2 separate regions of the Homo sapiens genome follow, and region 1 is linked to region 2. The links come from fine-mapping of genetic effects on gene expression. A gene starts in region 2. The other region holds a variant in brackets. All regions are shown on one strand. Distances are from middle to middle. Region 1 holds the start of LOC124903967 (a long non-coding RNA gene). Region 2 holds the start of MYO18A (myosin XVIIIA).

The links.
Region 1: its variant is fine-mapped to the expression of MYO18A in whole blood (TOPMed, PIP above 0.99).

What each region holds. Positions count from the first base shown.
Region 1 is chr17:29,139,839-29,142,739 of GRCh38, reverse strand. The region is part of intron 2 of MYO18A (myosin XVIIIA); the gene reads left to right. It overlaps LOC124903967 (a long non-coding RNA gene), which reads right to left and starts at 2,266. Exons shown (of 3, transcript XR_007065693.1): 1 at 2,214-2,266. RefSeq lists enhancers at 1,822-1,871, 2,022-2,111 and a silencer at 2,572-2,621. The variant T/C (reference allele first, on the strand shown) is at 1,295.
Region 2 is chr17:29,179,129-29,182,029 of GRCh38, reverse strand. It overlaps MYO18A (myosin XVIIIA), which reads left to right and starts at 1,632. Exons shown (of 42, transcript NM_078471.4): 1 at 1,632-1,717. RefSeq lists silencers at 1,553-1,773, 1,739-1,788, 1,909-1,958.

The sequences.
Region 1 (2,901 bases), 39 kb after region 2:
GGCCGTGTGGCCCTGGAGGTCATACTCCTAACCATGGTATGCTGTGAATCATTCCTTTCAAGCCGTGCTTCTCAGACTTTAATGTGCCTCAGCATCACCTGGAAGCCTAGTTAAAACACAGATGCTGCACCCCATATCCAGAGTTCTTGGTTCAGCAGGTCTGGGTTGGGTTCCTGGAATTTGCATTTCCAACAAGTCCCCAGGGGATGCCCACGCTGCTGGCCTGAGAACTTGGAGAACCAAAGCCCTTTCACATACATTATGTACCAGTCTCATACTGGTTGGGTAAGAGTCAGTAAAGGTGTAATCCTCATTTTACAGATAAGGGAAATTTAAGTCACCTGCCTGTGTTCACACAGCTAAATCATTCATTCATTCACTCATTCATTTAACAAATGGACATTTCTGTGCTAGGCCTTATGCTGGCCTTAGAGTCTTGCAGTTCTCAGCCTTGGCTGCATGTGAGAATCACCTGGGGAGCTTTTATCAATAAAAAATCCCAGTGTCCAGCCAGGCGCAGTGGCTCACGCCTGTAATTCCAGCACTCTGGGAGGCCAAGGCGGGCGGATCACGAGGTCAGGAGATTGAGACCACGGTGAAACCCCGTCTCTACTAAAAATACAAAAAATTAGCCGGGCATGGTGGCAGGCGCCTGTAGTCCCAGCTACTCGGGAGGCTGAGGCAGGAGAATGGCGTGAACCCGGGAGGCGGAGCTTGCAGTGAGCCGAGATCACGCCACTGCACTCCAGCCTGGGCGACAGAGCGAGACTCCGTCTCAAAAAAAAACAAAAACAAAAAAATCCCAGTGCCCAGGCCCCTGCTCCCAGACCAATTATGTCAGAAACTGAGAGGGAAAGGGTGGGCTCCAGGCATCAGTATTTTTTTCAAGTTCCCCAGTGGATTTCAGTGAGCAGCTGAGGCTGGCACCATTGTTCTAAGTAGCCACTGAAGATGTGAAGACCTGTGACACTGCACGTGCTTCAGAAGGGCCAGATGCTTCCCCTGGGGGGACATCCCACTCCCTAGAGAGCAGGACACAAGCGCCGTGTCCTAAGAGTCTGTGTATGTGACTATATGACAGTGAGACTTGGACAGCGCATGGCAGGTAGGAGGCAGGGCTGGGTTTCCATCCTCTCTGGCAGTGCTTACCAATCTTTTCATGGAGAAAGTCAGACAATGTATAGAACCAATGGCCCTTAGAGCTGGCCAGGGGCAAGAAGCATGGGGTGTATGCCAGACTGGTTAGGAGGCGGTTCTGTATCAGGGCTTCCTAGCACCACCCCCACCCCATTTT[T/C]TTTTTTTCCTAAAGAGGAAGAGGGAGGCAATGACTGTTTCCTTTTTTCTGCAGAGCTGACGGCTTCTGAGACTTGCTCTCCCTGTCTTTTGGCCCCTTGACATTCTGTTCTCCAGCTCCCATTTCAGCGTCTCAGCGGGTCCCTAGTCCTGGTCTAGGCATCCCATGGTGCTAACTGGAGAGCCAGGCCAGGATTTCTCTTCACAAGAAACACTGGCTTTTCACAGGCAGCCATCACTCATTGGCTAGACACCCATGACTTCCTCTGTCTGCAGGGCTGAGGCCCACCCCACCCTCCTCTCTGCCTGTGCAGTCCCTGGCGTCTGTGGAGGGGAGAGGGATGTAAACAAAGAGAGTGTAATTGATTCTCTGCATGTCCCCTGTGTGCTGATGGCAGTGGGGCAGTAAGTGGGCCTGCCCGTGTGGGTCTCTGCTCCTGCCAGACCTTACAGGACTGCTTTGCGGCTGCTGTTTGGGCACAGTGTGCAGTGGGCCCCGTGTGCTGTCTTGGATGTGACGTTAGTGGCTGTCTTGGCCTCTGCCGCAGTAATTAGATGGCTAGGGTAGGCCTATGATTTGGGTGTTCTCAAGAACACTGTGTTGATTGAATGTTCGTGCATGCTGGTGTGTGTGTGTGTGTGTGTATACGTGTACATGCACATGAGTGCGCATGTGCTTGTCTCAAGCTTGGCCTGTGGGGCCGGGGGCTGCAGGTCTCAAATTCCTCTGCTATTTTTAGGAGCCATATCAGCCCAGCTGTCCCGGAGCTGGGGTGTGTGTCCATAGGCAAGTCTCACCCTCCCTGTCCTTGCCCTAACCCCCTAACACTGCCTGCCCCCCACCCCAATGGCTTTACCCTAAGAGCCTTCTCCTTCCCTTCCACACACACTGCTGTATCACCCTCTCCCTCCTGGCATACCTGATACCCGAAGTCCTCCGGGCTGCTGGCTCCAACTAGGGCTGGGCAGCTCGGGACGGGAGGGGCCGGGGAGAGGGCGGGAACTGGGCGGGGCCACAGCCTGTGCTATTTTGAGCTGCTAACGGAGCCAGAGCAGCATCAGAGCGGAGTCTCCTTGCTCTGGGCTGCTCCAGGCCAGGCCATGCGGGTGAGTGTCCCTCTGACCCCCCACCCCGGAAATGTCCCAGGCTCCTCATGCTATTTCCTCATTTAGGAAAGGAGGGACCTTTTTGTGATTTCCCCAGATGTGGCTGAAGTAGGTGGGGAGAGGGGTGGGGCAGCCTTGGGGCTCCTCTCCGAGCTTCTTGGTAAGAAGGGAGTTACTCAGCCCCGGAAGCCTCAAAACCCCTCCGTGGCTAGGAGCAGGGCATCCTGGGCCTGACTCATGACTTCAGGAGTTTTGGAGGGGCACTGTCTTCTGAACCTCAGTTTCCTGGGGTTGCATCCACCCCCAAGGCTGTGACACGCCTTCCCCACCAACCATTAGTGCTTTTTTGGCCTTCATTCCTTAGAACACTGTTTTCTTCCAAAGCCCCAGCCCCACAGCACCCAAGGTCCTCGGTAGTCTTGTCTCTGCTTTGTTGCTGGTATAGCTCTTTCCTCTCTTCCTCCTTGAGAGGGGATGGTCCTTGGAGTTGTCAGGGAGCAC
Region 2 (2,901 bases):
CAGGCTGAAGTACAGTGGTGTAATCTCCGCTCACTGCAACCTCTGCTCCCCAGGTTCAAGAGATTCTCCTGCCTCAGCCTCCCAAGTAGCTGGGATTATAGACATGCACTACCACGCCTGGTTAATTTTTTGTATTTGTAGTAGTGATGGGGTTTCGCCATGTTGGCCAGGCTGGTCTTGAACGCTGGCCTCAAGTGATCTGCCCACCTCAGCCTCCCAAAGTGCTGGGATTACAGGCATAAGCCACCATGCCTGGCCTCAAATGTCATGTTTTTGAAGCTGCTCTTCTCACTCCTCAAGCCAAATAAGCCTCCCATCATAGCACCTATCTCATCATCCAAGTAATGCCAGCATGGTGAACCCTACTACTGTCACAGCTCAGGTCTACCTGTTCCCCATGTGATTTCCCTGGAGATATGCCATGTCTGATCTCCTTCTGTGTCACCCCAAGTGCCTGGGGCTGCACTTGGCACTTAGCAGGCAGTTTGTTAAATTGAATTTGAGTTGCATGTTATTCCAAAATGTGTATCCCGCCTGGGTCTATTCCTCAGGAACTCCCTAACTCTTACTCAACTCTCTGCTTTCTGAGCCTCCTTGCTCCAGCCTTCCCTGGTCTGTCAGGTTGGGCTGCCCTTGCCTGGAGAAGTTCCTGTTTGGGCTGTCTAGGGAGGTAGCAGCATTTGTCTGCTACACCCTTCTTCCTGCACCACCCCACTCAGTTTCTTCCACATTCTGGCACACCCCACTCCAGCATGGACACTGCCCAGGGAAGTGTCCCCATTTCTTTCTTTCTCCAAACTCTAGACATAGCACCTATCTTGGAGGCCTGGTATCTGGATGTCCCTTGGCCTCTCCCAGGAAGTATAAACTGTCTTCTTGGTGGGTACAGCAGCTCACTTGATATTTACAGCACACAGTGGACCCAGGGACAGACTGCATTCCAAAGAGCTTCTGAAAGTGTTAATCTTGGCATTGGTGAACTCCTTTAGGGAGTGAGTGGCACTTACAGCCATGGCTCCCGGGCCCTGGTACGCCTCTTGATCCACTCCATTTTGAGGCAGGGCTGTATCAGACCAAGCTATTGGGAGTCTGTTTTTACCTTGGGGAGTGCATTCTGGCAGTGCCATCTCGGACATGGCAGGCAGTACCTGGTCTGGACTGAGCCTGGGGCACCATCCAGCAGGGCCCTGTGTGTGCCTCTGCAGAGCCACCTTGGGAGGAGGCGGCCAGTAAGACTTAATTGCTTCCTTTAGACAGCACTACCTTGAACACAGCCTGCAGAGTTCGGTGCCTGCCTTGGACAGCCCCTCTTCTATACGTTCATCATGACCCTGGTGCCTGTCCTAGGCAGTGCCACTCAGCCCCTTTCGGACCCTTTTCGGACAGCCTCCAGTGCCCAGTGCAGACAGAAACTCCAGGCAGGGCCTCTCTCAGACACAGCGAGAGGGGCTTCGGAGTCCACAGCGGACGGAGGCTGCCAGGGCAGCGCCCGGCCCGCCTGGCCCACGTCTGGCGGCGCGCACTGGCGCTGCCAGGCAGGCCGGGCGTTTATCCCCACAGCCGCCAGCAGGGAGCTCCCTTTCGGCTCGGCCTGCGCGGTCGCTGGGGGCGGCGCTGAGCTGCGCCGCGCTGCGCTCTGCTCCATCCCTGACCGGGCCGAGGCTGCTGGATGCCGCGTCTCCGCTTCTGCTGCCTGCCGGGCGGGCTCCGGTGGCCGGTGAGTGCCGGTCGGCGGCGGCGGCCGCTCGGTGGCGGGCCCGGCTTGGTGGGGCGGCGGGGCGGGCTCCGGCCGGGAGGGAGGGCGGGCGGGCGGCGGGGCCCGCCGGCTCCTCCTCCTCCTCCCCCGTCCCCTGGAAGCAGCGGCCCGGACTCCCGGCTCCCGTCCCTGGCGGCGCCGTGGAGCTCGACGCCCGGGGGTGGGGGCCGATCGGGAGCGGCGGGGAAGGGGGAACCACCGGCCCTTCCAGCCAACCTGGGGGGCGCAGGGAGGCAGGACAGGGTGGCCTTCAGTGTGGGGGGATTTGGGGCTTGGAGGCGCCCAGGTGGCCCGGAGCTGCGGGGTGGGGGCTGCAGCCTCGAGGGTGGGGGGACTTCTCCTGCCCCCGTCCAGGCCCCACGATGGAGCGAGCGAGAGAGCGGGGCGCTGAGGAAGGCAGCGGGGAAGGGGAGCACCTCTACCGACCCTTTTATCCCTCCCAGCGGCCTTCACTCTTTCACTGCCGGGCAGACTGCGGGCTCCTCTCAAAGGAGCAGCTGCTAGACAGCTGGCAAAACAATGGAGACCCCGCTTCCCTGGGCCCCCTCCTCTTGGGACAGAAGATGAGAGGGTGAATGGTGGCAGGCTTTGGGGATTAGGGAGTGCAGGCTGTGCCCTGAGACTGAATGCTCACCTCACCTTTCCCTGCAGAGGGGTGGGGTGCGTGTGGGAAGGTCGGACAAGCTGCCCCAGGCCTCTGGAGAGACCGCCCCGACGCCCCGCCCTGCTAACCTGTCATGCCAGTTGTTTCGCCAATGGGAAGGGGAGGTGGTAGGGGTGGCTGCCCCCTCACCCTGCCCCTTGTTAGTGGGGGTGCGCTCCTTGGTCCCAAACCCGGCCAGGAGTGTGGGTCATGTTCCTGGGTGCGATAAGGCCCGCAGGGACAGGCCAGGCATTGGGGCTTTGTTTTGGGGGTGGAGATGGGGGAGTTGCCCTACTGCAAGGCACATGTGTCTTGCTGATTAGTTGGAAAGGTTGCGGCCAGAATGAGCTAGAGGTGGGGGGTGGGGGAGATGGGGAGGAAGACAGCCAGTTTGTTTTTGAGCGGGTATTCATTTTGCCTGACCACTTTGCCAATGGGGCATGTGTTTGGCGCTGGCCTCATAGTTTGTATTTGTGTGGGGAGGGCTGGGGGAATGCTTCCT